Linked DNA regions of Homo sapiens: regions 1, 3, 4, 5, 6 and 7 are each linked to region 2. The links come from fine-mapping of genetic effects on plasma protein levels. Region 2 holds a variant in brackets. A gene starts in each other region. All regions are shown on their reverse strands.

What was found. PIP is the posterior inclusion probability: the model's chance that the variant is causal. Protein levels are from antibody-based Olink assays in UK Biobank. Linkage for the fine-mapping came from a reference panel and not from the study's own genotypes, which makes the PIPs less certain.
Region 1: it holds the start of HBEGF, and the variant in region 2 is fine-mapped to the plasma level of the HBEGF protein (UK Biobank, PIP 0.95).
Region 3: EHD3 starts here. The variant in region 2 is fine-mapped to the plasma level of the EHD3 protein (UK Biobank, PIP 0.96).
Region 4: FOXO1 starts here. The variant in region 2 is fine-mapped to the plasma level of the FOXO1 protein (UK Biobank, PIP above 0.99).
Region 5: SNAP23 starts here. The variant in region 2 is fine-mapped to the plasma level of the SNAP23 protein (UK Biobank, PIP 0.96).
Region 6: it holds the start of MCEMP1, and the variant in region 2 is fine-mapped to the plasma level of the MCEMP1 protein (UK Biobank, PIP above 0.99).
Region 7: it holds the start of EREG, and the variant in region 2 is fine-mapped to the plasma level of the EREG protein (UK Biobank, PIP above 0.99).

The regions. Positions count from the first base shown.
Region 1 is chr5:140,344,671-140,348,863 of GRCh38, reverse strand. HBEGF (heparin binding EGF like growth factor) reads left to right here and starts at 2,261. Exons shown (of 6, transcript NM_001945.3): 1 at 2,261-2,581; 2 at 2,780-2,953. The coding sequence starts at 2,536. RefSeq lists silencers at 1,977-2,026, 2,067-2,346.
Region 2 is chr9:96,428,244-96,432,436 of GRCh38, reverse strand. No RefSeq gene overlaps it. Among named protein-coding and RNA genes, the nearest start is that of ZNF367, 12 kb to the right of the region's middle. The variant T/G (reference allele first, on the strand shown) is at 1,800.
Region 3 is chr2:31,231,309-31,235,499 of GRCh38, reverse strand. It overlaps EHD3 (EH domain containing 3), which reads right to left and starts at 1,348. Exons shown (of 6, transcript NM_014600.3): 1 at 652-1,348. The coding sequence starts at 878. It also overlaps a transcript of CAPN14 not described here.
Region 4 is chr13:40,664,461-40,668,653 of GRCh38, reverse strand. It overlaps FOXO1 (forkhead box O1), which reads left to right and starts at 2,013. Exons shown (of 3, transcript NM_002015.4): 1 at 2,013-3,071. The coding sequence starts at 2,442. RefSeq lists an enhancer at 1,125-1,174 and silencers at 1,825-2,354, 2,585-2,724, 2,815-2,864, 3,385-3,894.
Region 5 is chr15:42,493,143-42,497,335 of GRCh38, reverse strand. It overlaps SNAP23 (synaptosome associated protein 23), which reads right to left and starts at 1,702. Exons shown (of 8, transcript NM_003825.4): 1 at 1,623-1,702. RefSeq lists enhancers at 942-1,485, 1,486-2,029.
Region 6 is chr19:7,673,309-7,677,499 of GRCh38, reverse strand. MCEMP1 (mast cell expressed membrane protein 1) reads right to left here and starts at 410. Exons shown (of 7, transcript NM_174918.3): 1 at 325-410. The coding sequence starts at 379.
Region 7 is chr4:74,363,147-74,367,339 of GRCh38, reverse strand. It overlaps EREG (epiregulin), which reads right to left and starts at 2,195. Exons shown (of 5, transcript NM_001432.3): 1 at 1,965-2,195. The coding sequence starts at 2,031. It overlaps LOC105377276 (a long non-coding RNA gene), which reads left to right and starts at 1,999. Exons shown (of 3, transcript NR_188415.1): 1 at 1,999-2,189.

The sequences.
Region 1 (4,193 bases), not on the chromosome of region 2:
TCCTACAGCACATCATTGTATTTTAACTTTCATCTTAGCAGTTATCACTATAGGATATGTTTTTCCTTGTTTATTTCCTTAATGTGCTGCCTGTCTACTATAGAATATAAGCTCTGTGAAAGCAGGTCCTGGGCTGTCTTATTTATTTCTATGTCCCCAGTGCCCCCCAAAAATGTTCAGTTAATGTTTATGATATAATTGAGTTAATGAGATTGCCTCAGCATGAATTGTGATTCCTTTTCTTTGCTCAGAGACATCCAAGATTCTGAGAGGGGAAGTGACTGTCCCAAATCCAATTCAAGCTTTTTATCTTCTTTTTTCAGGCCCTTCCTGTAAAACCTGGCTGACACACAAACCTAGCTGGGGTGAGGCTCCAGGTGTGATGAAAGTTTGGAGTTGCCCCATGAATGGGACTGAGGCTGATGTGGGGGTGAGAAGGCGGAAGGACAGAGCATGTGAAGGGAGAAAGGCAGGCTGGGGCAAGAGAGCAGGGTGTGACTCTGGCGAGGGTGGGGGAAAGGGGGTGATTTGACCATGTGTCAGGAAGTGTTTCTCTCCACCCTCCCCTGGGGAGAGCCTTGACCCCAAGGTGGCTTTGTTTTGGGGAAGCAGGTGGCCAGGCAGCTGCTGAGGGAGGGCAAAGTCATGGCTTGGGCGGTGACCATGCACTGAGGTCCTAGGCCCGATACTCATCACCCAAAAGGATAATCTAACAGTGGCTCTTAGCCAAATAGGTGACAGGTGAGCTTCTGTCTGAAACCAGCCCAACTATATCATAAAGCCTCAGATATGGCCTAGGGGAAGGCAAGCGATCTAGAGAAGTGAGAGAAAAGAGGCCTCTAAGGAAATAGAGTGGTCAAGTGCTTAGTGATTATTATTAACAGCAACAATAATAATGGGTCACATTTATTGAGAGCTTATAGTGTGCCTGGCACTATACTAACTACTTTTATGTGTTCCCGCATTCATTTCTCAAAAAGCTCCCTACAAAGTAGTCATTATTATTATTGTTATTATTTTTTCCATTTGAGAGACGTCAAAACTGAGGCTCAGTGAAATTAAGTTTCTTGTCCAAGGTCACACAGTAAGTAGCAAAGGCAGGATTCAAACTCAGGTCTGTAGTGATTCCAGTGCACTATGGAAACCTAGGCCTAGGTTACTGGAGCAAGTTAAGAGGGCAGGGCCAGACTGACCCCTGCAAAGGTGGGGATAGGGAGGGACAGTGGGATAGACTGTGTATAAATAGCAGGCCTGTTTTTATCCCTACACACAGGCAGAATCCGGCAAGTGCTCTATCTGGCACAATTTCAGGGCTCTGAAAGCCAACCCAGCCCTGTGTCAAACAACTCTCTCCCCAGCACGTCCCTGGAAACTGAAATACCTACTGAGACACTCATTTCTTTGGGTCAGGACAGTGACTCCAGAAGACCCCTGCAAAAGCACATGGGTTGGAAGAGAAACACCTAGTGTCTGTGAAACAGCAATCTAGGTTAGCCAGCTGGGTCCTATGGGAGGGTGGCTCATTTTTTATGTTGAGGAAAAAGGTGGCAGTCAAAGGCAAGGAAAAGAATAAGGCTTGTTTCACAACCTGTGTCTCTCCAATCTCAGAAGCCTGGGAATTACAACCCATAGTTCAAAAATCCTAATGTCCCCTGAGGGAAGATGGGAGGAAGCCACTCCAGAGACTAAGAGAGTACTAACTTCCTTTGCTTTTGCTGGATTGATACTAAGTGCCTGCAACTTCAACTCTGGTTATCTCGGGTTTATGAGAACGGCTGGCATTCACGTGTCTAATTTTTAAATGATAGATGAATTAATTATTATTTGATACTTGCCGTGTTGGTAGGCCAAAAGGTGGGCTTCTGAAACTTAGAGGGTGACAGGGATGGAGACCCCTGGTATGGGGCTTAGATGAAGCAAGAGGCCAGGCCCGGAACAGAACTCAGCTCAGCAGTCAGTCACAAGGCTGCAGAGTGACAGGCGTTTGGGGAAAGGTAGGAACCGCTCTCCGCCACCTGCCGGTCAGTAGCCCTACCCACAATCAGGCCGCGGCTGCCTCGGCCTGGTCCCAAAAATTGTGAACGCCGCCCTCTCCTCCCGCCCAGTCCTCCGCCGCGCCCGCGGGGTCGGGGGCTGCGCTGCCGGCGCCGCGAGCCGGGCGAGCTTCCCAGCACGGGAGGAGGGAGGGGGCGGCGCCGGGCGGGGCGGAGCTTCCGCGCCTCCTGGAGCCTTATTCCCGGCCGCGAGCCGGGCAGCGCTCATTCGGCCGAAGGAGCTACGCGGGCCACGCTGCTGGCTGGCCTGACCTAGGCGCGCGGGGTCGGGCGGCCGCGCGGGCGGGCTGAGTGAGCAAGACAAGACACTCAAGAAGAGCGAGCTGCGCCTGGGTCCCGGCCAGGCTTGCACGCAGAGGCGGGCGGCAGACGGTGCCCGGCGGAATCTCCTGAGCTCCGCCGCCCAGCTCTGGTGCCAGCGCCCAGTGGCCGCCGCTTCGAAAGTGACTGGTGCCTCGCCGCCTCCTCTCGGTGCGGGACCATGAAGCTGCTGCCGTCGGTGGTGCTGAAGCTCTTTCTGGCTGCAGGTAAGAGGGCTGCCGACGCCCCCGGAGATCGGGGGGATGGGGGCGTTGTGCTGGGGGCATGGGGGAAGGTCGCCGCAGCGCACCCGGCACGGGCCACTTGGTGGGGCCCTTGCGCTCTGGCGGACGGGCGTCGGCATCGGTGCGTGTTGGTCAGGGGTCTGGGCGGGTGTCTGATGCGGCCTGGCCTCTCGCCCGCAGTTCTCTCGGCACTGGTGACTGGCGAGAGCCTGGAGCGGCTTCGGAGAGGGCTAGCTGCTGGAACCAGCAACCCGGACCCTCCCACTGTATCCACGGACCAGCTGCTACCCCTAGGAGGCGGCCGGGACCGGAAAGTCCGTGACTTGCAAGAGGCAGATCTGGACCTTTTGAGAGGTGGGTGTGGAGGCCCCCCATCCTTGGACCTTGGTGGGCTGTTGAAGAATAAGCAGATCCAAGATTCTTGCTGTTTGGGCAATACTGTGGGTTGAGGGTATTCATGGAGAACCTCGGGGAAAAGCTGATCGGCCTGATGGGCACTGGGGGATCCTGGAATATAGGTCCCACTCTCTCTCTCTTGTCATTGCCTCACCTGCTGGGTTGCTGCCCTTCTGGGTACTCCGGGGCAAATTGAATCAGACGTGTTGTCTGGGGTTGTTACGTTCTTCTTAGGTAAGCTGGGTGATAGGAACAAGGAATGGTTGAGATGCTTTCCCTAGAGCTACTATGTAAAAATGGGCGCCAGTTCTAATTCCCATATCAAATGACTATTATATATAAAATAGAGGTAACACATGCGGAGATGCCCAGGCACATCTCTAGAAAGTGTGCAGTGTTGGCCTCCTCCATCCACCTGTCTCCAGATTGGGGAAACAGAGGGGAATGAGGAGCTCTTGGCCGCCCTAGATGAGGCTGTGAATGGTGAGCACTGAGCCCCTAGGGGGCTGTATTAAAATGCTGGATATCTGTGAATGCTACCGGAAACCTGCAGCTTACTGAGCACCTTGCATTCCTGAGGAGACTCCAAATGGGGAGGGCTGTGTAGGATCCTCCAACCAGCCTCTTTGGCTGTGGCCAAGTACAGGTACAGGGCAGAGTCCAGAGCCTGCCAGCTCTCCTGCCTCCAAACCTGAGGAGATTATCCAGAGTAGAGCAAGGACTCAGCACTGTACCCTGGAATGACTATATTTGGTTGGACAGATGCCCACCTGTTCTAGTTCCACCTGCTCCTCAGCTGCCCTTCTCCCTCATTCCCAGGAGCTTTCCTTGGATACTCTCTCTACTTTGTATAAATCAAGCACATACTCCAAAACTGAGCCTGGGCTCCCATACTTCATCCTCTCCCAGTGGCCCTCTGGGGTTGCCCATGACCTGAACAGCCTGGATTCTCCTGGCCCTCTCCTCCTAGGCTGGGCAGGGCTGGGCTGTGACTCACCCCACCCCCACCCCCCACCCACACGGCTGCTCCTCTTACCTCTGCAGACCTGACTCACTGCTCCCTGTCCATGGCAGGAGCCTGGCTGTCACCCTGCACCTTCTCCCTCCCCTTTCTGATTGGCTTGGCCCCCCTGCCTTGCTCTCCCCGAAGCTCTGGTCACTGGGTTCCTCTGACCACCTGTATCACCTTCTGAGCTCT
Region 2 (4,193 bases):
TAACATGGTGAAGCCTTTAGTAGAAGTCTCTACTAAAAATACAAAATATTATCTGGACGTGGTGGCGCACACCTGTAATCCCAGCTACTCAGGAGGCTGAGGCAGGAGAATGGCTTGAATCCAAGAGGCAAAGGTTGCAGTGAGCCGAGCTCATGCCTTGCACTTCAGCTTGGGTGACAGAGCAAGACTCCATCTCAAAAAAAAAAAAATTTGCACATGTGTCTAATGACACTACATTAGATTCTAAAATGTACCTCAGATAAAAATGTAATTCTTGAGGATTGGCTGACTCAAACTGTATCTTGGCATGCTAATTTATACCAAAAGGGACAGATTGAACCATAGACCCTATGTACTAGACACCTACCAATTAGAGACTACCCTTTTGTGTGTGTATGTGTGTGTATCCCCTCTGGGTCTTATTCTTTTGTCCATATTGCTTTTTAAAAATTATATAGGCCAGGCACTGTGGCTCAAGCCTGTAATCCTAGAACTTTGGGAGGCTGAGGCAGGCGGATCACCTGAGGTCAGGAGTTCAAGACCAGCCTGGCTGGCCGGGCATGGTGGCTCACACCTGTAATCCCAGCACTTTGGGAGGCTGAGGCGGGCAGATCACGAGGTCAGGAGATCGAGACCATCCTGGCTAATACGGTGAAACCCTGTCTCTACTAAAACTACTAAAACCCCGTTTCTACTAAAAATACAAAAATTTAGCCAGGTGTGGTGGTGGGCGCCTGTAGTCCCAGCTACCCGGGAGGCTGAGGCGGGAGAATGGCGTGAACCCGGGAGGCGGAGCTTGCAGTAAGCCGAGATTGCACCACTGCAGTCCAGCCTGGGAGACAGAGCAAGACTCCTCTCAAAAAAAAAAAAAAAAAAAAAAAACAAAAAAAAAAACAGTCGGGCGCGGTGCCTCACGACTGTAATCCCAGCACTTTTGGAGGCCAAGACAGGCGGATCACGATCAAGACCATCCTGCTAACACGGTGAAACCCCGTCTCTACTAAAAATACAAAAAATTAGCCAGGCCTGGTGGTGGGCGCCTGTAGTCCCAGCTACTCGGGAGGCTGAGGCAGGAGAATGGCATGAACCCGGGAGGCAGAGCTGGCAGTGAGCCGAGATTGAGCCACTGCACTCCAGCCTGGGCGACAGAGCGAGACTCCGTCTCGAAAAAAGAAAAAAGATAATATTATTACCTCCTTAAAAGCAGAGAAAGCCTTTGGAAAAAAATCCACATACATTCGTCATAAAGCACTCAGGAAGATAGGAATTAAAAAATACGTTCTTAACATAATTGAATGTTATTCCTAAAATTAGTTTCTTATTTAATGGGGATACACTATAGGGAATTCTAGCATTGGAAATAAGGCAAGGATGTTCACTATCCACTACTTTTCAACATTGTATTGGAGGTGTTAACTACTATGATTAGATGACAGAAATCAATTACAGGTTGAGCATCCCTAACCTGAAAATCCAAACTTGAAAATGCTCCAAAATCTGAAACTTTTCGAGTGCTCACATGATGCCAGAAATGGAACATTCCACACCTGACCTCATGTGATAGGTTGCAGTCAAAATGCAGTTGCACAACATGGTTTATTCAGCATCCCCAACAGAAAAAAAGACCCTCCCGGCCCCTTTCAGCTGTGGTATATCTTTTCTGTGCATGCCCAGATTACCCCCCAACAAGCGTGCCTGTAAAGGGTAATAAAATTGTACATATGCAGCTGGATGCACCAATGGCAGGTTCCCCACAATGCCCCATATAGGGCCAAGACCTATGTGCATTACTCACTGTG[T/G]TTTTTTTTTTTTTTGCTTATTCTCTGCTCTGTGTTTAAAGATATTGTTGGAAATGCCAAAAAGATACCCCTATGGGTAACAGTGATAAGAAAAAAAAGAAGCACTTATGTTTATCTATAGCACAGAAAGTCATGCTGTTGGAAAAATTGGATGGCGGTGGAAGTGTGAAATGCCTTACAGAACAGTATGGTGTTGGAATGACCACCATATGTGACCTGAAGAAACAGATGGATAAACTGTTGAACTTCTGTGCTAAAAGTGATGGATAGAAGTTAATGAAAAATAGAAAAACACTGCAAAGCTGAAAATGAAGATCTTGATCATGTATTGAAAGAGTGCATCCATTAGCATTGCAGTGAGCATATGCCACTTAATGGCCTGCTTATCATGAGACAAGCAAAGATCTATCACGATGAACTGAATATTGAAGGGAACTGTGAATATTCAGCAGGCTAGGTGCAGATTTAAGAGAAGACACAGCATTAAATTTTTTTAAAGATTCGTGGTGATCATGAAGCAGCAGAGAAATTAACTAGTGTGCCAAGGTCATTGCTGATGAAAATCTGACAGCAGAACAAGTCTATAATGCTGATGAAACATTATTGTTTTGCTGTTATTACCCCAGAAATACATTGACTACAGCTGGTGAGACAGCCCCTACAGGAATTAGGGATGCCAAGGACAGAATAACTATGTTGCAATGTGCTCATGCAGCAGGCACACATAAATGTAAACTTACTGTGACAGGCAGGTGAAAAAGCTTGCTGTTTTCAAGGAGTGAATTTTTTACCAGTCCATTGTTCTGCTAACAAAAAGGCAGGGATCATCAGGGACAGCTTTTCTAATTGTTTTCACAAACATTTTGTACTAGTGGCATGTGCTCACTGCAAAGAAACTAAACTGAATGAGGACTGTAAGATTTTGTTATTCCTTGATACCGATTTTGCTCATTCCCCAGCTGAAATTTTCATCAAAAATGTTTGTGTCGGCTGGGTGCGGTGGCTCACGCCTGTAATCCCAGCACTTTGGGAGGCCAAGGCAGGTGGATCGCCTGAGGTCAGGAGTTCGAGACCAGCCTGGCCAACATGGTGAAACCCCATCTCTACTAAAAATACAAAAAAATTAGCTGGGCGTGGTGGCACATGCCTGTAGTCTCAGCTACCTGGGAGGCTGAGGCAGGAGAATCGCTTGAACCCAGGAGGTGGAGGTTGCAGTGAGCCGAGATCGCTCCACTGCACTCCGGCTTGGGCGACAGAGCATGACTCCGTCTCAAAAAAAAAAAAATATATATATATATATATGTGTGTGTGTGTGTGTATATATATACACATATATACATATATACATACATATATACATATATACATACATATATACACATATATACATACATATACATATATACACACATATACATACATATACATATATACATATATACACACACATACATATATACATATATACATATATACACATATATACATATATACATATATACACATATATACACACATATACATACATATACATATATACGTATATACACATATATACATATATACATATATACGTATATATACATATATACATATATACGTATATATACATATATACATATATACGTATATATACATATATACATATATATACATATATACATATATATACATATATACATATATACATATATACGTATATGCATATATATACATATATACATATATATACATATATATACATATATACACATATATACACAATATACATACATATACATATATACACATATACATATATATACATATATACACATATACATATGTACATATATACATATATACATATGTACATATATACATATATACATATATACATATATATACATATATATATGTAGTCTGTGTCAGAGCTGGAAGAAGTGGATATTCAAGACGTTTTTAATGAGCCTTGTTCCTTCACTAACTGAGGGTGAAATATCTGAGTTGGTTCTGAACCAAGGTGATCGTGATAACAGTGACAGTGAAGATGATGATGTTAACACTATAGAAAAAGCACCTATAGAGGACCTGGTGAAAATGTATGATGGGCTTATTGAAAACTAGGGCAGTGTGCATTCACAACCAAACAAGAAATCATGTCAATTCATAAAAATCAAGAGAGACGTCTAAGACAGAAACTGGCCGGGGTGATGGCTCATGCCTGCAATCCCAGCACTTTGGGAAGCCGAGGCGGGTGGATCACCTGAGGCTGGGAGTTCGAGACCAGTCTGACCAACATGGTGAGACCCCGTCTCTACTAAAAATACAAAATTAGACAGGCGTGGTGGCACATGCCTGTAATCCTAGCTACTCAGGAGGCTGAGGCAGGAGAATTGCTTGAACCTGGGAGGT
Region 3 (4,191 bases), not on the chromosome of region 2:
ATATTATTATTAAGCCATTAAGATCAAATAAGAGAAAGGGGAAAAAAAAAGCATTCTGCTTCTGGACTCAGCTTCTGTTGAGTCTCCAAGATATATACACAGGAGCTCTGCTTTAGAGAAGGAAATGATAAAAGGAGGACAAGTAGCATCCCCAGGCCACCTCCGTTCCCAGGCCCGCACCCATCAGAACTCAGCTGCAACTGTGAGGCCCCCATGTGAGTGCCAAGCCCCTTGAAAAACAAGGGAAGAGGTTTTGCCCGTGAATGATGTGTTGCTAAAAAGTGAAGACGTAAGACATCCCCACCAACATAAGGCGCTCCAGAGACCAGGAGCTCTTCCATTGTGCCTCCTGGGCCTCGGTTTCATCATCCATAAGATGGGGAGACTGGGAATGGCTTTACACTTGAATACTTCAGGTTGACCACCACAGCCAAGGGCCAAGTAGAGTGGACAGGTATTGGGTAGGATGGGAAGGGGGACCAGCAAAAATTGTGGGGTAAGATTTTGACGCCTGCACAAACACAGATCTCTTCAGAGCCCTCAACTGAAGGCTTCCCATTGGTCCCCTGTCTGGGATGGAGCACCAGGAGTGACCGGAGGGACTAGGCGCTGGGCTCCGGGGTGGGCTGCCAGGACCCTGGGCCGGCTCACCTGATGAAGGTGGTCTTCCCAGTGGAGTACTGGCCCACCAGCAGAACCATGGGCTTGTTGTCGAAGTCGGCATCCTCCAGGGCGGGCGAGTGGAACTCGTGGAAGCGGTAATGCTCTTCCAAGGGCAGCAGCTTGCTCTTGTAGAGTTTCTTGAGCCCCTCACTCACCGTCTGGAAAACCTCGGGGTCCTTCCTCCGGCGGTCGTCCGTACCCAGCCAGCTGAACATCGCGGCCGCCGCTCGCCCCCGGCACGCAGCCCCAGGGGAAGACTCCTCCTCAGGGGAAGATGTCCCGTAGGACCGGTCCGCCGGGCTCCGAGCCGCGCCGCCGCCTCACCCAAGCGCGGGGCTCAGCCGCACCATGGCCCGGGCACGCGGCTAGGAGGGCCGGGAGCGCACTCTCCCTGCTCCTGGGACCAAGCCCAGCCGCTGCTGCATCCAGCAGCCCAGGCCGGAGGGAGGATAAATAATCTGGGCTTGAGGAGGAGGGGTGAAATCTTGGCAATTAAAGTTGAACCTGCAAGGAAACTGCCAGATGCCGGGGTCCCAAGCCGGGGTCCCCGATCGGCCCCCAGCCCTCGCCTGCTCTGCCCTGCGTGCAGCAAGGGATGCTTCGGCTCCGCTCCTGCCGGACCGAGGCGGCTCAGGGGAGACGGCGACGCTGCCCAGCCCGCGGACAGCTCTGCATCCGCAGCAGCATCCTGCAGCCCCAGGCGGTGGTTTAAATGCCAGCTGGGCAGGAAGCCGGCGCGCAGAGGAAGTCCCCTAGTACTGGCAAGGCAGGGCCGGCCCCACGGTTGCGGCGACGGGAAGCCGCGCAGGGCGCCGCCATGTTTGTGGGCAGGCGCTCAGCTCTAGACCTGCGGCCGCGCGGGGAGAGGGATGCTGACCCAGTCCAGTGGGAGAGTGCCGGTGTCTCAGTCTCCGCCTCTGGGGCTTCGATTTGGGAACAGCGCCCTCTCAGGGACGGCTGCGAGGACAGAGTTGACCTATTCATCACACTCCCTGCTTTGAATCGCCTCTCCTTCAGTTGCTGAGGTCAATTCCCTAGGAAAACAGGTACTCTAGTATTGGGGGATTTTTTTTTTTTTTGGCATAGAAAGGGGATCCACTATCAGGTTACACAAAATAACCAAAACTGTCACTACCCAAACTTTTAGCTAGGCTTAGGGTGAAGTCAAAATCGTTCCCATTTACTTATTCATTCATTCCAGCAAAACAAAACAAGCCAAGAAGCAAAATCCCTGCAAGTATTGGGAATTTATTATGGGGCAGTTACAATTTTGGTGACTGTGGATACAGAGATGAGTGCTGAACAGACTCTCCCTTCCAGGAACTCCAGTGAAGGCAGGCTTTAAAGAGGAGGCATGAGCAGAGGGTCATGGGAATACAGGGAGGAGTCACTCCTTTTGTGTGGCTAATTTGAGGAAGGCTTCATGGAAAGCATGACTGTAAGCTGGATCCTAAATGATGAATTGACATCCATTGTTCTAGGAGCGTAAGGAGTATTTGCAAAGGCTTGAGGAACTTGGTGTGTCCAAGGCAGAGTAAACAGTTTGGCATAGCTGGAGTGTAGGGTTTAGGAAGGTGAAAGAGAGTGAGGGAGGCCAAGCATGAAAGGCTTTGCCAGAGATGGGGAACCAATAGCAATGCTATTACTAATCATTGTTACATTAACAAAATGCTCAGCATGTGCAGGGGCCTGGGCTAAGTTCTCAGTGAACATTGCTTTATTTAACCTTCATGGCAGATCATATTATCTCCAGCATCATACTAAGGAGAGTGAGTGGGAACACTGTCCAGGTGTAGGCAAAAGCAGTGCATCGTGTGTAGAGAATTTAAACCCAATAATAAACTTGCTGAAAGTTGATGTGCTTTGTATTGGCACCATTCTAAACAGTGTAGTGATAAAACACTCCTCCCTGCCCAGGCTAATGACTCCCACTACCCTCCCTTCCACAGATGAAGAAGGAGTAGGCTATGGACCAGGCAGGAACTGGAATGCCAAGAGCAGTGTTGGAGGGGCAAAAGAGGTTGGGGGTTGATATGGTTTTGCTTTGTGTCCCCGCATAAATCTCATCTCTAATTGTAATCCCCATAATCCCCATGCGTTTAGGGAGAGAGCTGGTGGGAGGAGATTGGATCATAGGGACAGTTTCATTCATGCTGTTCTCATGATAGTGAGTGAGTTCTCGTGAGAGCTGATGGTTTTATAAGGGGCTCTTCCCACTTGGTTCCTCATACTTCTCTCTCCTGCCGCCTTATGAAGGACGTGTTTGCTTCCCTTTATGCCATGACTGTAAGTTTCCTGAGGCCTCTCTAGGCATGCAGAACTGTGAGTTAATTAAACCTTTTTCCTTTATAAATTACCCAGTCTTAGGTATTTCTTCACAGCAGTGTGAAAACAGACGAATACAGAGGCCAAGAGACCATTTAGGAAACTATTCCAAAACTTAGGAGACAGCTGCAATGGGATTGGAGAAGAGGTCAGACTCAAAAGATTTTTTTCATGGAATAGAATTGTCAGATCTTGGTATGTGATAAAAAAAAGAGGACATAAGGGTGAGGCACAGTCTAGGATGATTTTGAATTTTCTACCATAGGGGATAAGATCATTGGAGAAGCTCTTCCACTAATTAGGGGAGGCAGAGAGAGAGCTGATTTAGCAGACAGAGATAATGTGTTCAATCTAAAACGTGTTGCGTTTGAAGTGCCTGCAGGAGCTTCAAGAGGAGTGTGGTGAAGCTGCAGGGATTTCAGGGGAGGGGGGATTATCAGAGGCCAGTGCTGAATAGAATCTCCTTAGTTACATCTCAGATCTCCCGACTCCCTCCTTGAACCCCAAAACTGATCATCTCTTGTTGAGAATTCACTCAGATTAATATTTCACCCTTGGTGTTTAGCTACTACCAACATACGAACCTAAGGAGTAATATTAAAGATATTTAACAACTCACAAGGCATGAGAATCAAACACCCGGAACAGACACTGGCCTTCCTAGTGGAGCAAGGCTTGCGGCCCCGTGCCACGCCTGGTGTTAATACAGTGGCGTCTGGACCTTGGAGAGATCTGAGCCTGTCCCCGGAGAGAGGTCAGTATGGCCAGCGTGACAGGAAAGAAATCAAGGGGCCCCATTATGGAAGTATTTCAAGAATTTTGTAATCAGTACGGCCATGCCATTGTCTACTGCTGAATGTCTGTTCCGAATATCTAATTTACCAAGTGCGTGTTGACACATCTACTCCCGTCTCAGTCTTGAGTAGTTGAAATCTATCTGTTTAAAAAAGGAACTAATGGAGCATTTCTATAGACTAGCAATAAAAGGTCATGAAAGATAATATTCAAAAAAGATACTGTGTTCAAAAGAACAAAAACTTACGGATAAATCTGACAAAAGATATGCAAGATCTTTATGTGAAAAATAATAAAACTTTATAGAAAGATGTTAAAGAAGTTCTAAGTAAATGGGAGAGACATGCCATGTTCCATTGTGGAAGGATTCCTTGTCACAAACATGTGAATTCTTTACAACATGATTGA
Region 4 (4,193 bases), not on the chromosome of region 2:
GCAAGGCCAAATTTGAAGCTGGCTTCCTTTGCCAAGAATGATCCAGTAGGGCACCGCCTATTTTTAGGGTGCGGCTGTCTGGATCGGGGGCTGCTTCTGCAGAGTGTAATTGGAAAGGTGGGGGGAAGCAACAGCTGTACTTTGGGGGCCTGCCTTTGAGCTCATCATCTGAGTTACTGAGGTCCCCTAGCGGCTGTCAGAGGAGGCCCAGACTGTCCAAATTTGATAGTAAACGTGAAGAGACCACAAGACCAGGGTGGGAACCAGTCCCCGCCCGTCCCCAATCCATCCGGCTCACGCTCCCCACCCCACCCATGCCTAGTATCAGCAAGAAGCTGTTGTGATAAATAGATTATGAAGAAACAGGAGCCCGGACTAGAGAGACGATAGTGAGAATATAAAAGAAGAAAGATAATCTCTCTCAATCTTTTTAACTTTTGTAAGAGGCCTAATTTTTCCTTTTTTCCCCTCTTTTCTCTTTTATTTTTTCAACAACCTCTTGTCCAACTGACTAATTTTCTCTAGATGCCACTTTTTCCATTGCAGAATTACTTGTAAGAAAGAAAGGGATTAAAAAACAAGAGTTGGAAGCTGTCCTTTTGGACAAGATATTTAAAACCCTACTGTCCATCTTCCATCCTAAGTGGTCCCATCTTTCTAAAAGGAAATGCCTTCCATATTCTTCCTAAAAAAGCAAAAGCATAACAAAACAAAACTGGAAAACTGTTTCTTCTGCTTGAGACACAAGGGCCATTATCTTCCCACCTTTGGCCCCACTGATCCTTGACAGGATGTCCTGGACCTGCAGCCCAGATGAGGAAAGGTGGGGTGTGGGTGGGGGGTTGACTGACACACACAGCAAGTAGCCTCAAGGAATTTGGGGGTGGGGCAGGCTGCGCCCCAAGGCTTTGGTCCTATCTCCCGCCCCCCTTGCGTTTTTACTTAACACCCGATCACTTCCGTTGCAAATAAAAAAGAAGTAACAAACAGCTAAATTTAATTAGGGATAAGTAATAAAATGACCTGGTTCTCTCTAACTGCGCTCCTGAGCCCTTCGCTGCCGGCCCTGGACTTAGTGGACGGAGCGGGAGATTCCCGCCCAGGGGAAGAGGTTCCCACGGAGGGCATGCGGTCGCGGGTGCCTTTGGATTCGTGTGTTCAGGGAGGCCAGATAATCTCCTCCCCGCGCCGGAGCCCCTGTTCCTCATTTCTAGCATTTTAAAAAAGGTCAAGAATACAGTGAATCCGGCTGGGGGCTGCCGGCTGGGTGACGCGCCTCTGGCTAGACCGAATGGCACAGGCTGAGCCCGGGGGTGCGGACCGGTGGGCACGGAGAAGGGTCCCTCGGCGCGGACTCGACTGCAGGAGCCGCGGCGCCGGGGGTGGGGGGCGTGTGCCGCTCGCGAGGGGGCCGGAGGACTTGACAGATCGCAGCGAAAGAAAACATTAAACCAAAACAAAACCCACCGATTCCCCACGTCGTTCAGCAAAGACATCGTGGGTGGAGCCAGGAGGGAGCGATTGAGTAGAATTCCTCGCGGCCGCCTCCGCCCGCCCACCCCGCGCCCCCGGCCCTCGGCCCCCTGCCCTGCCAGCCCGCCGGGCTCGGCCCGCAGCGGAGGTCAGGGAGCAGCGAGCGCCTCCTCCCACCCGGGCTTCCCGAGTACTCGGCTCTGCTGCTCCGTAGTAAACAAAGTGTCGCCGGCGCCTCCACGCTGGTTTGCTTCCTAGCAATCAAAACACTGAGAAGGCGAGAGAATCACAGAAACACTCGAGAATTACCAGAAAATAATAGAGATCCAAAAAAAAAAAAAGGAGGTGAGTGTGTGAAAGAGAAAAACACCCCACTACCCCCCACCAGCCCACCGCCGCCTCCCCGTGGAAAACCGGGCCCCACCCAGCCCGGCGCCCACTGGCTGCCCGGGCGGCGGTGCCGCATGCCCATTGGCCGCGCGGGCTGTCGGTCAGGGGCGGGCCGGCGCGCGCGCCGCCGCGGGCGGGGGGCGGCGGCAGATCCCGTAAGTCGGGCGGCCTGGTAGTCGCAGCAGCCGCTGCCGCAGCCGCCACATTCAACAGGCAGCAGCGCAGCGGGCGCGCCGCTGGGGAGAGCAAGCGGCCCGCGGCGTCCGTCCGTCCTTCCGTCCGCGGCCCTGTCAGCTGGAGCGCGGCGCAGGCTCTGCCCCGGCCCGGCGGCTCTGGCCGGCCGTCCAGTCCGTGCGGCGGACCCCGAGGAGCCTCGATGTGGATGGCCCCGCGAAGTTAAGTTCTGGGCTCGCGCTTCCACTCCGCCGCGCCTTCCTCCCAGTTTCCGTCCGCTCGCCGCACCGGCTTCGTTCCCCCAAATCTCGGACCGTCCCTTCGCGCCCCCTCCCCGTCCGCCCCCAGTGCTGCGTTCTCCCCCTCTTGGCTCTCCTGCGGCTGGGGGAGGGGCGGGGGTCACCATGGCCGAGGCGCCTCAGGTGGTGGAGATCGACCCGGACTTCGAGCCGCTGCCCCGGCCGCGCTCGTGCACCTGGCCGCTGCCCAGGCCGGAGTTTAGCCAGTCCAACTCGGCCACCTCCAGCCCGGCGCCGTCGGGCAGCGCGGCTGCCAACCCCGACGCCGCGGCGGGCCTGCCCTCGGCCTCGGCTGCCGCTGTCAGCGCCGACTTCATGAGCAACCTGAGCTTGCTGGAGGAGAGCGAGGACTTCCCGCAGGCGCCCGGCTCCGTGGCGGCGGCGGTGGCGGCGGCGGCCGCCGCGGCCGCCACCGGGGGGCTGTGCGGGGACTTCCAGGGCCCGGAGGCGGGCTGCCTGCACCCAGCGCCACCGCAGCCCCCGCCGCCCGGGCCGCTGTCGCAGCACCCGCCGGTGCCCCCCGCCGCCGCTGGGCCGCTCGCGGGGCAGCCGCGCAAGAGCAGCTCGTCCCGCCGCAACGCGTGGGGCAACCTGTCCTACGCCGACCTCATCACCAAGGCCATCGAGAGCTCGGCGGAGAAGCGGCTCACGCTGTCGCAGATCTACGAGTGGATGGTCAAGAGCGTGCCCTACTTCAAGGATAAGGGTGACAGCAACAGCTCGGCGGGCTGGAAGGTGAGTGGACTCGGCGCGCGGCCGGACCTTGGGGGCGCGGTGGGTCAGGCGAGGGCGCAGCTGTGCAGGTTTGCTCGGCCTGAAGGTGCGGAGCAGGAGGGCAGCGCGTTCCCAGGAGGGCGGGCGAGAAGCGGTGGTCGCGGTGGCCTCGCCCGGGTCCGGTCGGGGACGGCAGTAGGTGTGCGTGCGCGCCAGTCAGGAGTTCGCGTGGGACGCGGTAAGGGGCTCGTTGGGGAACTAAGTAAAGAAAGTGCGCCAAGAAGTGGACGTCAGAGCGAGGCCGAAAAGTTTGCCAGTGAAAGGAGAAAGGGGTTCGCTGGGAGCGGCAACCCCCGGCCCGCGCCGACTGCTTCGGCTGCCCCTTCCCTCCCGGACCTCCGCGGGGGGAGGGCGGGTTCTCTCCGGCCGCGCCGCGGAGCTGTTTCCGCCGGGCGCGGCGGGGGAGGGCGCGGCGAGGGGCCCCGGAGCCTCGCTGCCCCGGGACCGGGCTGCAGGTGGAGGGGACAGGCAGGGCGCGACCGGCCGGGGACGGTGCAGGGCCTGCCGGGCAGTTTCTGGAGGCGGTGCGCATTTTGCTTTGTTTTGGTTTTCTCCGGAGTGGCCTCGAGTGCCGGGGGCCCGGCGTCCCGAGCCCGAGGTGGTGCCTCCGACACGTGCGAAGGGGCGGCCACCGCCTGCGGAGCGCCGGCGCCTGGCCGCGCGGGGCGAGCTAAAGTTCAAGTGTGACCCTCGGCGGGGGCGGGCGCGGGCGGTGGCGGTGGCGGTGGCGGTGGCGTGGGAGGGGCCCCGGGCGCAGGAAGCCCGCGCCTTTAAAGGGCCAGCGCGTCGGGGCCGGGCGCCGTGGGGCCAGCGTTTCTCCATGCGGGGAAGCGCCCGAACTTGGTCTTGCCCCTGGTAGGAGGCTTTTAGTTAGAAACACAGAGGCTGCCCTGAGGGGCCGGGGGCTGGGATGTGTGAGTCTTTTCCTGCCTTGCCACCCTATTCTTGAGCATGGAGGACCAGGCGGGGGGGCTTTGCGACCAATGTTTTGAGGGAGTCGGAGTGGCGGTGCGCGTCGAGGGAGCGGTGCCTTGAAGGAGGATTTTTGCCATTTTTGCCTTTCAGAGCGTGGCCAGGAGAGAC
Region 5 (4,193 bases), not on the chromosome of region 2:
TTGGGACGTTGAGGCAGAAGAATTGCTTGACCCTGGGAGGCGGAGGTCGCAGTGAGCCAAGATCGCGCCACTGCACTCCAGCCTGAGCGACAGAGCAAGACCCCATCTCAAAAAAAAAAAAAAAAAAAAAATTAGCCAGGTTTGGTGGCACACATTTGTAGTCTCAGCTACTCAGGAGTGTGAGGGAGGAGAATCGCTTGAAGTGTTGGAGGTTGTAGTAAGCCAAGATCGCGCCACTGCACTCCAGCCTGGGTGACAGAGTGTGAGACTCCATCTCAAAAAAAAAAAAAAAGAAAGAAAGAAAGAAAGGGGCCAGGGGCAGAATGATACAGTTTGGCTATTCATAATCTCATCTCGAATCTGGTGAGAGGTGATTGGATTATGGGGGTGGTTTCCCCCATGCTGTTCTCATGATACTGGTTTTATAAGGGGCTTTTTCCCCTTCACTGTCTCTCTCCTGCCATCCTGTGAAGAAGGTGCTTGGCTTCTCCTTTGCTTTCCACCATGATTATAAGTTTCCTGAGGCCTCCCCAGCCATGCAGAACTGAGAGTCAATTAAACTTCCTTCCTTTATAAATTACCCAGTCTCGAGTATTTCTTTTGCTTTTTGTTTTTTTTTGAGTTGGAGCCTGACTCTGTCTCCCAGGCTGAAGCTCAGTGGCACGATCTCGGTTCACTGCAACCTCTGTTTCCCAGGTTCAAGTGATTCTCCTGCCTCAGCCTCCGGAGTAGCTGGGATTACAAGCATATACCACCACGCCTGGCTAATTTTTGTATTTTTAGTAGAGATGGGATTTCATCATGTTGGCCAGGCTGGTCTCGAACTCCTGATCTCATATGATCCTCTCTCCTCGACCTCCCAAAGTGCTGGGATTACAGGCGTTAGCCACCAAGCCCGGCCTTGGGTACTTCTTTATAGCAGTGTGAGAACGCACTAATACAGACCCCATTCCAGGAGATGACAAATAGCAAAAGGCAAAATGATACTCCCTTCTTGACTTTTTTTTCCTCTCCCACTTTTATGTCTTTACGTTTCCTCCTACCATCAACTGCCTTTCCTAACATTGTGGTGACTGATTAAAGAAGAAAAAAAGGACGAGATGAAACTACACTTTACAGTACTTTTTCCCCCCACCACTCCAATCCCGAATTGTGAAATTCATTCTTTTCCTGATCCTCTAATTTGTGCAGTAATGCCGCGAGGTAAGGCTGAACCTTTCTAGAGAGCAAGGGCTATCCAATACCAGGAACCTCAGAGTCCTTCCTCAAGCCATTATCTCAGAGCTATCTGATCACTGTGGTCACCATACAGGCAGTCTATTAATGTCAACTACAGCAACACAGTAAGGGTGAGGGGCGGAAAGTGATCTCTGTTTAATTTCGAGGAAGGGTCCAGAGAATTACCATCCAGCTACCCTTCCTCCACTGGTCCCTCGATGTTCTCCCGGCACCTCCCGTCCTCTCTCCGGGCCCATCTGCCGAGTAAGGGCCAGAGAGCCCCCTCCTCCGCTTAAGCCCGACCCCACCAACTTTTCAACCAATACGATACACTCTTTCTTCTCAGGACATAGTCTCAGACTTCATCCCGGCCAGCTCCCTCCGTCCCACTCCTGGAGACTCACCAAGCGGGCGAGGCCACTCCTCTCCGGCGGCAACTCGGACACCCCAACACCGGACCTGGCGCTGCACCCTAGTCGCGCCTGCGCGCGCCGAGCCCGCGCGCCTGCTCACTTCCCGTTCGCCGCGGACACAGACACACCCCTGCAGCTGGAGCCAATCACGGTGCTGGGGGTTTAAATGTCCCTGCCACGCAGACGGAGAGTCTGGGAATTCACTAGTTAACCGGATAGATTTCAGTCCTGCCCGAAGCTGGGAGGTGTTCATGCAATAAACATTTACTGAGGGCAAACCGTATGCCAGGCACTGTGCTGGATGAACGCTGAAGAAAAGAAAGCGAATACAGTGCTTTCCCTGCTCTTCATCGCCTTTCAATATGTCTAGACTAAGATATAGATATGTAAACAAATTATAGTGGATAGAATACAGTGCATAGCACATAGAAAATTTGAGGCGCCTTTGGCTGATAATGAACAAAGCGTTTTATTCTTAGGGGTGTCTGGAAGGGTTCCCGGAGGAAGTGACTTGAGTCATGAAGGATAAGTAGGAGTTCCCCCGGAAATCCGGCAGAGAAAGAGCTAGAGTTTTCCAGGCTCTGGGGAACAGCTTATGTCGAGAACAGCATAACGCCTTCTGGAAATTTCTAGTAGTTCATCCTTGTTAGAGGCTTAGTGCTAATCGTACATCCCCGAGTGTAGAGGAAAGAAAGCTTTAGAAGGCCAACAATCGCTAGATCTTGGAAGGCCTTGGAATTTTAGACCACTTTGTACTAGGGGCACTGAAAGCTATTGAAGAGTTTTAAGCAGATGGAGGATTATTGTAAACTATTTGCTGCAGGAACCCCTCCATGCACCTCTAAGAATAAAATAAACTGCTGGAAATCAAGAAAAGAAAGTGCTTCACCAGGCACAGTGGCTCACGCCTGTAATCAATCCCAGCACTTTGGGAGGCTGAAGCGGGCAGATCACGAGGTCAGGAGTTCCAGACCAGCCTGGCCAACATAGAGAAACCCCATCTCTACTAAAAATACAAAAAATTAGCCGGGCATGGTGGCAGGCGCCTGTAATCCCAGCTAGTCGGGAGGCTGAGGCAGGAGAATCGCTTGAACCTGGGAGGCGGAGGTTGCAGTGGGCCAAGATCATGCCATTGCACTCCAGGCTGGGCAACGAGAGTGAAATTCCGTCCCCCCTACAAAAAAAAAAAAAAAAGAAAGAAAAAATAGCTGGGTGTGGTGGCGGGTGTCTGTAATCCCAGCTACATTACTATCATAATGTCTATCACTGGCGACAGTGCCAGACTCCATCTCAAAAAAAAAAAAAAAAAGTGCTTCAAGGAGTAAGTAGTCTATTCCTAAGGGATCAAGGAAGATGAAGCCTGAGAAATGTTTTTTTTAATTTCATAACACAGAGGTCACTGATTATCTCAGTGAAAGCTGTTTGTTGGAATGCTGGGGTTGAAAAAAACAACTTAGTAGTTTGGAGGTGGGGGAGATGTAGAGATGGGGACAAGTTGTAGAATGCTTTTGGAAAGTTTGGCCTTGACAGGGAGGAAGGAGGGAGAATGATGAAGGATCAAGATTTTTTGTTTTTGTTTTTTTGATTTTTGTTAGAATTAAGACAGGAGAAACTTGAGCATGGTAGGGAAGATTCAACTGAGAAAAAAATGGTTGAATAAAGGAAGAGAAGGGATAGTCAGTAGGCAAAGATCTTGAAAGGGTAAGAATAGAGGCAGTTTAGAGGCAGTTCGAAACACTGGTAAGAATAATGGTTTTGGAAGAGGGCAGGGAGGGAGAAAGAGAGAGAGAGGAGATATTTCCCCAATTATGAGAGGAAGTATGTTTCTGTATGTTTAGTAACAGGAAGTTAAAGTTCTCATTTGCTGACTTGTTTTCTCTGTGAAGTTGAAGATGGGGTCATCTTCTGATAGAAAAGGAGGTGGTATTGGGAGTTTAAAGGAAAGCTGAGAAGATTTGGAATATTGTAGAAAGTAATACAACAAGTTGACAGAAGAATGTTGTAGGACTGGTAAGCAATATTGAGGGCCTTTTTAATATGGGCAAAAATGAACTCACCATTTTCTGCCCTCCTGTGTAAATTTCTCAAGCAGCAGTCACTTGTTGAGGGCAGAGGTGGAGAAAATGTATGGTTGAGTTCATTAGTTCATTTAGGGTTGTGATGGTCATTGATATAATTCCGTGGTTCTCAACCAGGGACGATTTTGTCCTCCGGGGGATATTTGGCAATGTCTGGAGATGCTTTATTGTGATGACAGGGAAACGGGGGTGGGTACTACTAGCATCGTGTCCAACAGTGCTGCTAAACATACATACACACACACGCACACACATATATGTATATATATATAGAGAGAGAGAGAGAGAGAGAGAAGGTCTTGCTCTGTTGCTCAGGCTGGAGTGCAATGGTGTGATGTCAGCTCACTGCAACCTCTACCTTTGCAGCTCAAATCCTCCCACCTCAGCCTCCTGAGTAGCTGGGACTACAGGTGTGCACCACCACTGCCGGCTAATTTCTGCATTTTTTGTAGAGACACGGTTTCACCATGTCACCCAGGCTGGT
Region 6 (4,191 bases), not on the chromosome of region 2:
GTTAAGTGGAGCGGGTGTGTGAGAGTTTGAGTGATCACACCACACACACATCCACACACACATCCACACATCTTGGAGGGGAAGGAGCCCCCGGCCCCCACCTTTGACCCCTTACCTCTCCCATCTGAACTCTCCTTCTTTTTTTATTTTTATTTTTTACAGACAGAGTCTCCCTATGTTGCCCAGGCCAGTCTCCACCTCCAGGGCTCACGCAATCCTCCCGCCTCAGCCTCCCAAAGTGCTAGGATTACAGACATGAGCAAAAGCCCCCGGCCCCCCAATCTCTCCTTCTTAACCCCTCCCTTCCACCTCGAGTTCCCTAACCTTGATTCTTGGCTGAGACCCCCTGTTTCTTGTCCCTGAAGGCTGGTGCTTGCATCTTGACTTCCTGGTGCTTGTAGATTTCCTCCACTTCCATGGTCCCCAGCCCGCAAATTTGTCCATACACGTCCCCGCCCACCGGAAGGTGTGGGCAGATGAGGAAATCTGGAGGTGGGGGGAAGAAAGAGGGGGAGCAGCCTCCTCTTTTCAGGGATCCACGACTCTCGCACCCTGGGGCACCCTCATTCCTGCCCCGATCAAGAGGCTCTTGGGAGCCAAGAGGTCTCAGGAAGGACCAAGAAGAAAAACCTCTAGACCGGGAGATGGAATTCGACACTCGGAAATGTTACAGGAAGCTGTGGTCTCTGTGTGTGTCTGTGTCTACCTGGATGGACCTCACCCTCCTACCTCCTCTCCATTTCAAAAGAGAAGCTGTGACACCTCAGTGTCCCAACTTTTCGCGTAAGAGCAACCAGGCTTGGAGACAGGACCCCTGGGTCCCCCCACACCTTCCTCCCTCCAGCCTCAGCTCCACCCCTCAGCTCCACCCCCAAGAAGTTCTTCTACTTCTACAAGTCCCCGTGGAGGAAAAGCACAGATGTGAGGCAACGGGAACTAACCACTGGAACGCCACACCCACATCTGGGACTGAGGACAGACCCACATCCTTCCCTCCCTCCCCAAATCCCCTGCTTTTATACAACCCTGGAGGAGGCTGGGTGCGGTGGCTCACGCCTGTAATCCCAGCACTCTGGGAGGCTGAGGTGGGTGGATCATCTGAGGTCAGGAGTTTGAAACCAGCCTGGCTAACATGGTGAAACCCCGTCTCTACTAAAAATACAAAAATTAGCTGGGCGTGGTGGCGAGCGCCTGTAATCCTAGCTACTCAGGAGGCTGAGGCAGGAGAATCGCTTAAACCTGGGAGGCGGAGGCTGCAGTGAGCGGAGATCACACCATTGCACTCCAGAATGGGTGACAAGAGGGAAACTCTGTCTCAAAAAAGAACCCTGGAGGAACAGTTTCCTCTGCACCTGGAAACTCCAGGTTTCTCATTCTCATCCATCCATCTGCTTATCTACCCAGATACTCTCTCTCACACATGTACACACACAGGTCTGCACACGGACACACATCACAAACTCATTTGCATACTATTTGCATTGTGACACTCAGAAAAATAGACACAAGCATGCGTTCACATGCCCGCACTCTGTCTAGAAGGTGTCTTAGTTCACTTTGTGTTTATCTGATCTTGAAAACTGGGGTTACAAAAGGCACAAAGTAGCTGGGTATGGTGGCTCGCTCTGTAGTCCCAGCTACCCAGGAGGCTGAGGTAGGAGGATCATTTGAGGCCAGGAGTTTGAGACCAGCGTGAGCAACATAGCAAGACCCTGTCTCTTTAAATGTTTTTTAATAATTTTTTTTTGAGACAGGGTTTCACTCTGTTGCCCAGGCCGGGGTGCAGCAGCGTGATCATGGCTCACTGCAGCTTTGACCTCCCTGGCTCAAGTAATCCTTCGTCCTCGGCTTCCCGAGTAGCTGAAATTACAGGTGGGCACGACTTCACCTGGCTAATTTTTCTCCTTTTTTGAGATGGAGTTTTGTGCTTGTCACCCAGGCTGGAGTGCAATGACGCTATCTCAGCTCACTGCAACCTCCGCATCCCAGGTTCAAGTCATTCTCCTGCCTCAGCCTCCCAAGTAGCTGGGATTACAGGCATGCACCACCACCCCCGGCTAATTTTGTATTTTTAGTAGAGACGGGGTTTCCCCATGTTGGTCAGGCTGGTCTCGAACTCCTGACTTCACGTGATCTACCCGCCTTGGCCTCCCAAAGTGCTGGGATTACAAGCATCAGCCACCGTGGCCCAGTCTAATTTTTCTTATTTTTTGTAGAGATGAGGGTCTCAATATGCCGTCCAGGCTGGTCTTGATCTCCTGGGTTCAACTGATCCTCCAGCCTTGGTCTCCCAAAGTGCTGGGATTACAGGCATACATTTTTATTTTTATTTTTTTCTGGCCAGGTGTGGTGGCTCACGCCTGTAATCACAGCACTTTGGGAGTCTGAGGCGGGCGGATCACCTGAGGTCAGGAGTTAGAGACACCAGCCTGACCAATATGATAAAACCCTGTCTCTACTAAAAATGCAAAAATTAACTGGGCGTGGTGGCAGGCGCCTGTAATCTCAGCCACTCGGGAGGCTGAGACAGGAGAATCACTTGAACCCGGGAGGTGGAGGTTGCAGTGAGCCGAGATCGCGCCATTGCACTCCAGCCTGGGCAACAAGAGCAAAACTCCGTCAAAAAAAAAAAAAAAAAAAGAAAAAAGAAGAAAGAAGAAAGAAGGAAGGAAGGAAGAAGAAAAGAAGAAAAAACAAGTATAAGACTGTCTTATGTGCAGAAAGTGATGATGTTTTGGTTAAAAATATGTGGTTAAATTTCAGACAACTTGAATGTTGAGAAATGAGCGTCGAGATCTGGTGAGGATAAAGTTCTGTTTCCTAAAATATTGCCAAATCCTGTGTCTCCAAGAAAGATCAATTTGATAATGACTTCATGCCAGCTGCTCCATTTGGTCTTAGAAAGAAGTCAGTTACTGAGCTATAGGACCGCCTTCTAATGGAGCAGACGGACCAATTGGATGTGGGCTCTGCCTTGATGGACAGGCACAGGGGGTGGAGCCACAGCGTTGCACATTTCCCGGGCTTGGGTGGGGCTGAGACGCGGCTCCAGGCTCTGGACTTCCTTTGAGAAAAAGGTCACGCTAAACCAGAGGCCCACAAGCAATCATGTCATGTGGGAAACATCTGCAAAGCTGCCTGACCAGCACCCGTCCCTTTCATAGGGTAACATTCTCAATTTTCTTTTAAGAAAGAAAATGTGTGCTAGATCCAGCAAACCATAAGCTAGGGATTGGTTTACAGTGGACAAATGATCCAGACCCAGCCAACCAGAGTCTAAGATTGGGCAGAGAGGCGGGCATTTGAGCAAGATCCAGCCAATGAAACGCTGGTCTGGGATTTTTATTGGTTTAACCACGGGGGAAAAAGCATTCTCTTTTTTTTCCAGCCCTCACTAGGGCTGCCACAATGGGAGGATGTAATGGGAGCTGTGACAGGGAAGAATTTACTTGAGAGCAAAGGCAGTGCTGAGAAAATCAGACCCGAGAGGAAGTCTGGGTCCTGGAGACATCATTTGAGACCCTGGTTCCAAGCCATACCTGAACCTGTTGTTCTAACCCTGGGCTTGTCAGTTACACAAACAAGAAACTTCCTTTTAGTTTTGCCCAAGCTAGTTTGAAGTGGGGTCTGTTGTACTTGCAAGCAGAAGAATCTTGCCTTGGCTGGTCTCTGTGGCCCACGCCTGTAATCCCAGCACTTTGGAAGGCCGAGGCAGGTGAATCACTTAAGGTCAGGAATTTGAGACCAGCCTGGCCAAAATGGCGAAATCCCCGTGTCTACTAAAAATACAAAAATTAGCCAGGAGTGGTGGTGGGCGCCTGCAATCCCAACTACTCAGGAGGCTGAAGCAGGAGAATCACTTGAACCTGGAGGTGGAGGTTGCAGTGAGCTGAGATCGTGCCACTGCACTCCAGCCTGGACAACAGAGTGAGACTCCATCTCAAAAAGGAAGAAGAAGAAGGAGGAGGAGGAGAAGGATGAGGAGGAGGAAGGAGGGAGGGAGGAGGGAGGAGGGAGGAGGATATCTTGCCTACCACAGGGGATCTAGGCATTAGCTATTGAGGAAATTGAGGCTCTAATAGGGGGTTTGCCTGTCCACATCACCTGGGCAGATATGACCTCCAAGTCTGCACTCTGGGGCAGGAGAATGTCTATGTTGGAATTGAGGAACCTGAAGAGAGCCCTCTTAGG
Region 7 (4,193 bases), not on the chromosome of region 2:
AAAATGCTAGCAAGCCCAAGTGTGGACTCTCACTTTGTCACTATTTTTCTATGTGAACTTGGGTCACAGTTCCCCAATTTATAAAACAAGAGCCTCAATATTAAACAAGTGTAAAATTTAAAAGTAACCAAATGATTGTGCATAGCAATTTAAATCTGTATGTGTTAAGGGTGGAGGCTGGAACTTTATTCCCTAGTCATAACTACATAAAGCAGTTATAACATGTATGCTAAAATTTAAAATAAATGTCTCGCTCTTTTTTGCTGGGGGAAGGACAAGATTTGGGAAAAGTATTTTTAGGAAATATTTTGTTTGGGGGAAAGAAGGCAATTTCAGAAATAACAGGTGGTCTTGCCAAAATAAGGCTATGGGCTCTGCATAACTGAATAGAGTTTAGAGATATAATACAGAACTTGAAACAGGAACTTTCCTAGTGGCAGAGAAATATCCAAACAAACTGGGAAAACAGAAACTGACCTAACTCATTTGGAAATGGGCTTGGCAGCTGACGAAATAGATGAACTATAATTAAGTAATGCAATGAAGGAGGTAAGCACTTTCATGACAACAAACACACACACAACACACACACTAGTGGGTAGTAACCAGGTTATTCACAGGCTCTGGCTGTCTCAAATTAGAATATTCAATGAAACACCCAGAACAGACATGTGCATTGTTCAGATGCAACCTTACATGTGGGGAAAATAATAAGTGCTAAGTTATTCTGACCTCGAGGTTAATTTCTAACTCTAGGAAGACTGTCACCTTTCTAATTTAATTCTTTTCAAAACAAAGACAGCAAAGCCACATTGTTTACTGAGAATCTTCTAGCAAGTCTTTCTTAGCTCAGTTTTGGCAGAAACCACATATCTAGTTTCCACTTGTGTTCCTGGACTTAGACTTGTAAGTTTCAATTATGCATAGTATGCATTTCATTAGGTCTCTCAACCCCTGAGATAAGGTGTGCCAAAATAATAATTTAACAGTCACATCCTTCACAGGTAGAGTTAGAGTGTCTGGGGAATCAGCCTCATTCCAACTCCAGGGAGAATATGAGACTGGTGGTAACTTTTATTTTTTTATTAAGATATTCATATACGACTTCAAACTCTTTCAAATTCCTTAAACTGAAGTTTAAGGAATTGGAAAGAAGTAATTTTTTTTTAACAGAAAGGCTATTTAGAAAATTTTTCCCCTTGAACTAAATCATCTCAAATAGGAAGACTGGCATTTAAATACCCTCAGCGATCACAGGCTATGGAGTGCAATTAGCAGCAAGTGCAGAACGCTTGCTCCAGAGGCTGCTTGGGAGGCTGCAGGGAAAAACGCAAGCAGCAGGTGTAGGGGCGAAGGGCGGTGGGGAGCGCCAGGACCTGCCCAGGGCCCTTCTGCTCCAGATACCCTCGACCAGTGTTTTATTTCTCTTGTGTCTGGAGCTCAGCCAACTGGCACTGGCGCATACCAGCTCCTCCGGGAAAGCTAAACCAGGCTAGGTTTTAGAAAACTGAGCGCAAGACAGAGGAGAAAAGCTTTTTCCCCCCTCCAAAAAATTTCTTACGCTAGTTTCTATTCCCCACTCTCCAACAAAAAGGAACAAGACATGAAATGTTAACAGTGCGTTCCAGGCCTTTAGATTTCTAGGACTGGCAACTTTTCAAAAAAAAAAAAAAAGCTTTTTCAACAACTTTTTATTTTGTTTAATAAGGAGATATTTCAATCCATGCATAACATATATGCCAATAATTAATTCACCAATAAAAAGCATTTTAACATCGATCCCCAGTCCCCCCCACCCCAGTCCCACCATAGGGGAAGACAGACTCACAAAACAAGACGTAATTTTAAATAGAGCACACTTGAACCTGGAGACAACTCCGTACTTGTCGAATGACAAATGCACAGGAGCCTTCCTTATTTGTCTCCTCTTTGGGGCGGCCGGAAGCCAGAGGGGGAGAACTTACCCAGGCAGAGCAGCAGCGCAGGGACCCTGCCGGCACAGAGCATCTCCATCCTCCTCCCCGCGGTCATCGGCGATGGGAGCGGGCGCTGGGGCTTGGCGGAGGGCGGCTGCGGAGAGTGCACGGGCAGGGCGGGAGCAGACGGGCTCGCGGCAGTGGCTGGAGAGCGGCTGTCAGCCTAGAAGGGACCCCACGTTGGCTGTGTCCCTCTGACACTGGAAATATCAGGCAAGTGAGCTCAACTGTCTGGTGCTGCGAACTTTATACTAGGGAGCCCCTCCCGGGCCCTAACGGGGTGAGGTCAAGAGTGCCCAGAGTTTCATAATTGGCCCGAGGGAGGAGCGGCAGGAGGACCGTCAGGAAGTCATCCTCCCTCCCTGGAGCACCTGAGAGTAGTGGTTGAGGAATGAAAAAATGTCTTTCCGATTGGCCGGGGACTACTCCCGAAACTTTTCCATCTCCCTCCGGGAGGTGGGGAGCGTGGACCAGATGGCTTGGTTTGCTTTGTGGGGTCACCTGCCCTGTAGTGGGTGGTTTTGGTTGCTCAGGGTGACGGACATAACTTGAATCAGTCTTTTAGCCAAGGCTGGCGTTCCCCATACATGCCTTTGGAGAGCTGTGCGTGTGACTTACTAACCTCAGCCACGAAAACTCCCTTAACTTGAAGTCTGTCAGTGATTCAAGCGCCCTCCTTGCATTGAAACGCCACCGCCCAGAAAAGCCTTTCCCATCTGCGCCTTCCTTCTGAGACCCCTGCTTCCAATGTGGCTCAGGCATTTATTACCTCAAAGTCGAGTCATTGTGAAGAAAATTCCTGTTATTTTTTTTCCTTCTGTCGTATTTGCCATTTGTCAGGTTGCTGCTTTTGATATGACTTCCTACTAAGTAGTGCCTTAATCCTGTCGCTCCCCTGCACAAAACCTTTCAACGACTTCCTATTGCTTTTTGGACAAGGCCTGCCACAAACGTGAAGCCAATCGGTCTTTTCAACCTCAGCTCCCACTATTTCCCCAGGCAAATTGTCTGACCCCAGCCAGGCTGGAAAACTCTAAGCCTTTCCTCACTCCCACTTTCCTGCCTATGCTGATGGAGTCGTACTTTGAGGCAATGGCTACTTTTTAAAGGAATTAGTGAAATCCTGCTCAAATTCATGGTTCTCCTCAAGGGCCTGGGCTTCTTAGGCTTGTGGATCTCTTTTCATTCTGATCTCTTATAGCTTTTGTCGTTTATCTTCTCCCTAGCCTCATAGAATTCTAGACCCGGTACTTTACACCTGGGAAAGCTACTTTGTATTCCTTGACTTTTTTTTTGTTTGTAAGTCCTATGTTCAGCTCTGTACTGTGTAAATTGTCTTCCTTTTCACTGCACTCCTCTATAGGACCTAAGAACTGTGAGTCAATTCAGCAGTACTGTATGTAAATATACATATTTGAATAGAAAATGGAATCTAATGGATGTTAACTCCTTACCTTTTTATTTCTACTTTTTAAAAAATTATTATTACTATTCCTTTTTTTTTTCTGGCTTTTTTCTCTCATACTCTAAGGCCCTTTAATGTCCAGAATGCTCTTGTTAGAAACAAATACTTCGGCCGGGCGCGGTGGCTCACGCCTGTAATCCCAGCACTTTGGGAGGCCGAGACGAGCGGATCACGAGGTCAGGAGATCGAGACCATCCTGGATAACACAGTGAAACCCCGTCTCTACTAAAAATACAAAAATTAGCCGGGCATGGTGGCGCGCGCCTGTAGTCCCAGCTACACGGGAGGCTGAGGCAGGAGAATGGCGTGAACCCGGGAGGCGGAGCTTGCAGTGAGTCGAGATCGCGCCACTGCACTCCAGCCTGGGCGACAGAGCGAAACTCCGTCTCAAAAAAAAAAAAAAAAGAAACAAATACTTCATCATGTTATCAGGGGTTAAGATTTAAACTGTCTGTGTGTGAATTCCTGGACAAGTTATTTAATCTGTCTCAATTTCCTCATACGTAAAACAGGGATAATAATAGTATCCAGCGCATAGGAAAATAATGAAAGTGCTTAGTAGAGTGCCTAGTACCGAGTTAGTGCTCACTAAAAATACCTACCATTATATGCAAACGTTGATGCTTAAGATGGTGGTACTTGGTAGTTGGTCAATATTTGTAAGTTAAATGAATCAATGAACAGTAGGATAGAGGTAGGCTGGGTTCCTAAGTCTAGCTTCCAAATCTATCAAGAAAGCAGGCATTGAGTGA